2 separate regions of the Homo sapiens genome follow, and region 1 is linked to region 2. Evidence: fine-mapped expression QTL. A gene starts in region 2. The other region holds a variant in brackets. All regions are shown on one strand. Distances are between the middles of the regions.

What was found. PIP is the estimated chance that this variant, and not a neighbour inherited with it, causes the effect.
Region 1: its variant is fine-mapped to the expression of SEC23B in whole blood (TOPMed, PIP above 0.99).

What each region holds. Positions count from the first base shown.
Region 1 is chr20:18,473,786-18,478,187 of GRCh38, forward strand. It overlaps POLR3F (RNA polymerase III subunit F), which reads left to right. Exons shown (of 9, transcript NM_006466.4): 5 at 1,290-1,402. Among named protein-coding and RNA genes, the nearest start is that of MIR3192, 5.4 kb to the left of the region's middle. The variant G/A (reference allele first, on the strand shown) is at 2,206.
Region 2 is chr20:18,505,407-18,509,808 of GRCh38, forward strand. SEC23B (SEC23 homolog B, COPII component) reads left to right here and starts at 2,534. Exons shown (of 20, transcript NM_006363.6): 1 at 2,534-2,566. RefSeq lists enhancers at 2,075-2,404, 2,755-2,804.

The sequences.
Region 1 (4,402 bases), 32 kb before region 2:
AGTTACTTAAACTTTGTGAGCTTCAGTTTCTTTATCTTATCTATAAATTGTGGATGCTGACACCTCTCGTTTTTGCAAGGACCAAAAGGAAAGCTGGTGTGGTGTAGCAGTGTCTTAACAGATGTCCCTCCGCAGCTATAGTTTCTCTTCTACCCGCTTGAAGAACTGTATCTAAATTGCAATCCTAAGTTACAATAATTTGGGATCTATTTGAGTCATTGATATTAGCTGGAAAAATTGAGATGTAATCTGAAATTACATAACTAATTCTTATATTTATTAAAATTAACATTTTTAAAAATAGTCCTATGAGAAAGCCATTCTGCATATTTTTTTAATCTTCCTATCTCATATGCCATTACATTGGGAAGAAAATAAAGCAAAATATTTACATACATTCCCTTTCCATATATAACACTTATTTCCTTCTTTGAAAAAGAAATCATTGCTTCTCACACAGGGCTTTTAGCAGCCATAAGAACCCTAGGCTTCCTTTTCCATCTCACAAATACAATGTTGTATAAATAATGGATTACATGCATGCAGACACTCATCTAAAGAGTGTTTTTGTCCCACTTGAGGATGGCAGTTGACCTTGACCCAAATTTAAGTTTGTATTTCACATTTACAATCTAAAATGAAAGTATCAGAAAACAGAGATAAGGGTACAGATGATAAAATTCCATTGCATCCATGATTTTTCCTTCCATTATAAAAACGTCGTTTTCATAATTTTTTTTTTCTTTTTTTTGAGATGGAGTCTTGCTCTGTTGCCCAGGCTGGAGTGCAATGGTGTGATCTCGGCTCAGTGCAACCTCCGCCTCCCGGGTTCAAACGAGTCTCATGCCTCAGCCTCCCGAGTAGCTAGGACTACAGGTGCATGCCATCAGGCCCGGCTAATTATTTTTGTATTTTTAGTAGGGACAGAGTTTCACCATGTTGGCCAGGCTGGTCTCAAACTCCTGAGCTCAGGTGACCCACCTGCCTCGGCCTCCCTAAGTGCTGGGATTACAGGCATGAGCCACCATGCCCAGCCCTTTCCATAAGTTTTTTAAAAGTTTGCCACACTGGGATTCCAAGAAATTTCTAGTTAGAAATTATAAATCATTATAATAAGTCTTACAAAGCATTATACTTATTTATTGTTTAGCATACTTTTGCTACTTTAGCCAGCATTCTTTACTGTTAGCTTTATACTGCTAGCTTTGGAATGAGACACAAGTTAGAGGAATAACATTAAAAATCCATGAAAACCAGAGTTCAACTTATTTTACTTTACTTTCTTATAGGAATATGGAGCAGAGATATCCGCTATAAAAGTAATTTGCCATTAACAGAAATCAACAAAATTCTGAAGAATCTGGAAAGTAAAAAGCTTATCAAAGCTGTTAAGTCTGTAGCAGTGAGTAGTCCTTTCCTCAGATACCCACTTACATATGTTGCTTCAAGTTTTTATTCTTGAAGTTATGTCATGATTTAGAACAGCTGGTCAAAAAAGACTTAAAAATTTAGCTCATGTTGGATTGGTTTGGAGATGCTGCTTAGACTTGTCCCTACACAGTTAGCTCTTGGTGTCTCACTCACCCACTCAAAAATCTAAAACTACTTTACTGTCTTCAGTGAAGAATCTTTGGAACTGTGAACATTTTTCCTAGATTTTGTGGTGTGTAAGATAATTTACTTTATCCCGACATATTAGCTTTCTCATTCAACAAAGAGTGTTTGCTGTGTGCCAGACACTGTTTTGAGTGCTTGGGATACATTAATGAACAAGTCGTAGAAAGATCCCTGCCTTGGTGGAGCTTCTCTTCTAGTACACGTGTGTTTTTCCTGCTCCTCATCCTGCCCCACCCCTGCTCCAGAGCTGGCTCCCTCGGGGACATCTGCCCCTGACCTCACTGATTTAGACATCAGAGGAACTGAGATTCCCCTAGAATAAAGTTTGCTTCAATACACATTTCATAAGAATTACAGCTATAATTCAAATTTTATAATTTCAGAGCTGTTAGGTCTGTGGCAGTGAGTAGACCTTTCCTCAAATATCCGCTTACATATGTTGCTTCAAGTTTTTATTTTTGAATAAAACAAGAATTATAAGAATTATAACATCACTTATAAGAATTTGATGCTTATTAGTGATTTTATTTATCAGAATAGCATTTCCCTTCCACATTGTTTAATGGATAATTTCAAATATATACAAAG[G/A]TAGAAAAAATCATATAATAAAACCCTATCATGTAGCCTCATTTTGTCAGTCCTCCTTCTACATCTTTATGTTTAATAACAGCTCTGCTGAAATATAATTCATCATTCATACTACAGAATTCATTCAACCTTTTAAAGTGTAAAATCTTTGGATTTACAGTCACTGGTTTTTACTATAAGCTAAGAGTTGTGCAACCATCACCGCTGTTCTAATTTTAGAACATTTTCATCACCCCCAAATGTGGCCACTAGTATTTGTTTCCCAGCCTCTCTTTCCATAGGCCCTAAAAACGAATAATTTATTTTCTGCCTTTATTATAGATTTGCCTATTCTGGACAGTTCCTATAAATGGAATAATAGAATATGTAGTCTTTTATGTATGACTACTTTGACTTAGCATGATGTTTTCAAGATTTATCCATATTGTGCTTTATTCCTTCTTATTGCCAATTAAAATTCCATTGTATAGATGTATATCACCTTTTGTTCATTCATCCGTTGGTGAACTTCTGTGTCCTTTTAAGGGTTAAAATAATCTTAGATCTCAGTGTAAAGTGCAAAACTATAAAACTTTTTGAAGAAAACATAGAAAATCTACATGACCTTGGCTTTGTTAATGAATTCTTGGACTATAACTCCAATAGTAGTCTATGAAAGAAAATGTTAATAAGTTGGAGTTTATCAAAATTTTTTGAAAACCTCTGCTTTGCAAGACACATTAAGAGAATGAAAAGACAAGTTACATACTAAAAGATATTTGCAAATCACATATTTGATAAAGGACTTGTCTCCAAAATATACAAAGAACTCCTAAAATTCAGCAATAAGAAAACAACACTTTGGGAGGCCAAGGCGGGTGGATCACCTGAGGTCAGGAGTTCAAGTCTAGCCTCACCAACATGGTGAAACCCTGTCTCTACTAAAAATACAAAATTATCCAGGCGTGGTGGCACATGTCTGTAATCCCAGCTACTTGGGAGGCTGAGGCAGGAGAATTGCTTGAACCCAGGAGGCAGAGGTTGCAGTGAGCAAGATTGCACCATTGTACTCCAGCCTGGGCAACAAAAGCGAAACTCCATCTCAAAAAAAGAAAAAAAAAAAAAAACACACAATGAAAACAAATAATCCAACTAAAAATGAGCAAAAGATCTGAACCTCACCAAAGAAGACATACAGATGGCAGATAAGCATATGAAAAGATGCTCTACATTATTTTTCATTAGAGAACTGCAAATTAAAATAAAATTTAGTATAGTGAGATACCACTACACACCTATTAGAATAGCTAAAATCTAAAAATTGGTAATACCATATGCTGACAAGATACAGACCAAGATGAACACTCATACATTGCTAAGAATGCAAAATTTTCAGTCCTTTTGTTAAAAAACTGGGCAGTTTTTACAAAACTAAACAGAGTCTTACCACATTGTCCAAAGGTCAAGCTCTTAAGTATTTACCCAACTGATTTGAAAACTCATGTCCACATAACTACATGAATATTTATAGCAGCTTTATTCGTAATCAGCAGCTTTATTCATAATCAAAAACTGGAAGCAACCAAGGTATCCTTCAATAGGTGAATGGATAGACAAACCAGAATAGTATTCAGTTATAAAAAGAAATAAGCTATCATGAAAAGATATGAGTAAATCTTAAATGCATATTGCTAAGTAAAAGAAGCCAGTCCGAAAAGGCTACATACTGTATGATTACAACTATATGACATACTGGAAAAGGCAAAACTAGACAGACTAAAAAGATCGGGGTGAGGGCAGGGATGGTAGGGAAAGTTGAATAGGTGAAGCATGAGAAATATTTCTAGGGTGGTGAAATTATTTTGTATGACAGAAGCATTAACCAAATTTGGAAGCCCACCCAAGCTTTGCTGTCCAAAGTTTTTATTAGGGTTTCATTATACAGGCATGATTGATTGAATCCTTGGTCATGTGAGTGAATTCAATCTCCAGCTCCTCTCTTCTCCCAAGAGATTGGACTGATGTCATGTGGCCCAAAGCCCCAACCCTCTAATCATGCGGTTGGTCTTTCCAGCATGGACAACTCCTATCCTGAAACTATTTAGAGTCCTATCAGGAGTCACCTTGTTAGCATAAACCCAGGTGTGATCTAAGGGATTCACCATGAATAACAAGGCCTATTGGGAAATTCCAAAGATGTAGAAGTTATTTCCTAGGA
Region 2 (4,402 bases):
TCTATGTGTCTTCCCGGCTGTAATCAACAAAGGCCTTCCCCTCTTGTTGTGGGAGTAAAAAAATCTTACTACCTTTGTAAAGTTTTAATAAGTTATATTATTTCATGTCTTAAAGGAGCTCTGTTATAATTCACTTATGGAAACAAACACATGTAAATCAATTATTTCTAAAATTCCAGAAAATAAGTAAATTAAACTTATGCATGCAAAATTTCTTAAAAATGCTGAAACCATCCTGACAGGGTTAACAAGATTACAAGCCAGCCTTTAGGCAGGTTAGTTAGGCACTGACCAGGGTGCATTGGTGCCCTTCAATTCACTTCCCTGCAGCTGCTAACTAACCAAAAGCCTTGCAGCACACTGATCACCTACTCCCTGATTGCTCCTATCCACAGAATCTCTGACACTAGCTCTTTGTACCCAGGAATTGCTTAAGGTATTTTTCAGATCCTGAATTCCCACAAAACAGCTGATGCCAAACTGTCTAGGGATCCCCACCAGGAAGGGCACAGTGGCTCACGCCTGTAATCTTAGCACTTTGGGAGGCCAAGGTGAGAGGATCGCCTGAAGCCCGGAGTTTGAGACTAGCCTGGGCAACAAAGTGAGACCCTGCTTTACAAAAAAAAAATTTTTTTAAATAAATAAATAAAGACCTCCACCAAGAAACAACACTGGAATGAAGTTTCTTCATCTCCCTGTCCCATGACTTCACCTCTCACTTCCTGACCAATCAGAAATCCCCACACTTTAGCCCATTGCCCCTCCAGACTTCTTAAAAATGCCATCTCTAATCTCTTGGGGAGGTGGATTTGAGGATTGCTCTTGTCTCCTCATTTGGCTGCCACTTGATTATGGAACTCTTTATCTGCTGCAACTCCTATTCTTTCTGTTACCGCACAATGGACAATCGAACCTGATGGTCCTATAACAATCTTTCTTACAGAAATTGCTAGTACAGAAAGAATCCAGGTTCAAATAATCAAGGCAAATCTTTGGCGAATAATATTAAGTTTTGGTTAAAAAAAATCCCAGCTATGTCTTTTCTCAGTGTTAAGTATTATACATGTGTACATTTTGAGTTTGTTTCCTTACCGAGAATAATTAATCTGAACTTCCTAAATTTATAAAAGTTTACTATTGATAAGCTAATATTAACATTACATTGTTTAAGATCCTGAAAAATGTGAATTTGTTCAACAAAACTGAATCATTCTCACATTTAACAGTAATTGTTTCTTTGTGCCTTAAACTATTAATAATTTCTATGATCTGTAGATAACTTAAAACTTAGTATTAAATTGAGCTAATTAATGGATACTTCTTGGATGCCTAGATATGTTCTTGCATAATTTTATGTTTACATCGTTTTGCTTATTTTTATATGCTACAGAGACTACAACTCTGAGTCACAGTAATGATGTGTTCATGTTTGCCACTTGTCAGCGTGTGTAAAAATGGTTGTGGTGGCTTTATACAGTTGTGTTCTATCGCGCCTTTTGCAGCAACATGGATGCATCTGGAGGCCATGATCCTAAAAGAATTAACGCAGAAGCAGAAAACCAAATACATGTTCTCACTTGAAAGTGGGAGCTAAGCATTGGGCACACATGGACACAAAGGTGACATTAATAGACGCTGGGGACTACTAGAGTGGGGAGGGAGGCAGGGAGGGGCTGAAAAACTTGGGTACTATGCTCAGTATCTGGGTGACCAGCTCATTCGAATTCGAAACCTCATAGCCAGGTAACAAATACGCAGTGTACCCCCTAAATCTAAACGTTGGAATTATTTTTTAAAAGAAAGTTATGTTCCATGTATTTCTAAGCTTACTCTCCTAAAATGGTTGAATATTACAGTTCTCAATTATTTATCTCCATGTAGAAGGATGACAGGGACTGTGCGCTAGTGCCAGCCTCCGCTGAGAGCGCCAAGACATTACAGCAAGCGACGGTAGGAGAGCTTGTAACGTGAAGCACCACCACACCTCTGTACTTCAAACTTAACCACAGAGACCGACTCCCAAACCAGCAAGTGCGTAAGCGCCGCCGCGCTCACCACCCGCCCCGCCCCTTCCGCATGCTAATGCCTTCTTCCGGCAGCCTTAGTTTCTTCCAACCAGTGCAGCTCCCTGTTCCGCGAGCATACGTCATCGTTCTCGCTTTCCGGTAGCTAAGGCGATCAGCGGGACTTCCCACTGAGACGAGCGGATGTCATATTGTATCAGGGCGAACCTCTGAGGAGCGCTGGCTGCGCTTAGGCAACGGTGCGGCAGGCGCCGGGGTTTTCTGAAACAGAAACGTTTAGGGGTGGGGAAACGTGTTCCGAGGAACTCTCGTTTTGAAGTGCGACATACACCTGTCTTGCCCTGTTCCAAGATGGTGGCAGAGCTTCTCTGAGTCTCTCGCTTCCTCCAGTCCGTCGGAGAAGCGCTCTTTGATTGGCCAGTGGACAGCGCCGTGGCATGACGCGCTGGGGCGCTGGCCAATCGGTTGAGAGCTGAGCTGGACTTGGCGGTGGGAGCCGGAGCCTGCTTGTTGCAGCTGTGGGTGAGGACGGCTCTAGCTAGGTGAGCGGCTCCGGCCAGGTGAGCGGGGCGCATAGGTGACGGAGGGCCGAGGGCACGGGTATGAGTTTCTGCCGGGGGCGAGGTGAGCGGCTTCTGGGAGGAGGCCTTTTCTTGACAGTTTAGGGTAGCGGGGGAATGGATGATCCGGGAGTCCCCTGCGGATGTCGTCCCGCACCAGGCCGGGACCGATTTCTGGCTCCAGTTTCCCCAGAATTGCGGAGTGCGCACACCTGGAAGGACCCAAGTCCCGTTTTATAGTTGAGAAACTCAAGACTCAGACAAGTGAAACGACTTTTGCTTCATGACAGCTGGAACTGGAACCCAGGTCCTTGGACTCCCTTCAAGGATTAAACCTCACTTATTCTTACATACACATGGTCACTGTGTCCTGAGAAGTTACGAGTTGGCGCGATAAGGGTGGTTCAGATTTTTTGGCATATTCTCCTGTTATCTTTCCAGGCCTTTCATTCATTCACTAATTCATACTTTCAGTTATTTACCTCTTCAGATACCTTCCCCGATACTTTGGTAAAAGCTATGGACCCATCTCCCTAGAAAAACGGCATATTCCCTCATGCGCATAACTTCAGATGATTAGTGGACCTTCTATAGTCCCCTTGGATTATGTGTCCACTGCTAAGAATCCAGACCCTAGAAGGGTGAGGGAAACAGGCAGTAGGAAAAGGAGGGAGCAGGTCTTAGGCTGTACATGCTTGGAAACCATTAGATGGAGGCAGTAGCTTCTTTTTTTTTTTTTTTTTTTTTGAGATGGAGTCTCGCTCTGTCGCCCAGGCTGGAGTGCAGTGGCGTGATCTCGGCTCACTGCAACCAATGCCTCCCAAGGTCAAGCAGTCCTCCCTGCCGCAGCCTCCCGAGTAGCTGGGATTACAGGCACCTGCCACCACGCCCAGCTAATTTTTGTATTTTTAGTAGAGACGGGGTTTTGCCATGTTGGCCAGGCTGGTCTTGAATTCCTGACCTCAGGTCATCCACCGGCCTCGGTCGCCCAAAGTGCTGGGATTACAGGCGTGAGCCACCGCGCCCGGCCGCCAGTGCCTTTTAATAAAGAACGTTTTGAGAGAGAGACGGTTATTTAATGAAATCTGCTGACATACTTGCTGAGAGTTGTGATAGAACTTGCTTTCATTCCGACTTTAGTTATCCCTTTGCTTCCCATGAAGCTCCAGAGTGCTTCCTGTGCACACAGTGCTTCAGGTTCTTGCCGTTGCCAGAAATAAACAGATTTCTTAGAGTTTCAGTTGGAGCAAACATTGGAATTCTTGTGTTCTGGGCTTTATGTAGTAGAGTAATTCATTTGCTTTTCTAGCCATGCAATATTATTGCCTTAATCAAAATTATTTACAGTATGGTACTTCCCAAAATAACAGACAGTTGTTATCCATATTCAGGAAGTGGGCGCGAGAGGCCACTTTAATTTGATAGACTCTTTAATTTGCCTTTTTACTACTTTTCTTGAGGGGCTTGTTCCCTTGAACCCCAATAGCTGAGTTGTGTGTTACCCTAGATTTTAGGATATGAACAGGATGTATAAATACTCAATGAAGTTGGGATCATCTGGGTTTGAGAGTTTAGCCTGTAGGACAGTTTTACTGACCACAGTCTTCATTTTTTTTTTGAAACAGAGTCTGGCTCTGTCGCCCAGGCTGTGCAATGGCATTGTCTCGCCTCACTGCAATCTCTGCCTCCCGAGTTCAGACGATTCTCCTGCCTCAACCTCCTGAGTAGCTGGGACTATGGGCACGTGCCACCACACCTGGCTAATTTTTGTATTTTTAGTAGAGACGGAGTTTCACTGTGTTGGCCAGGCTGGTCTTG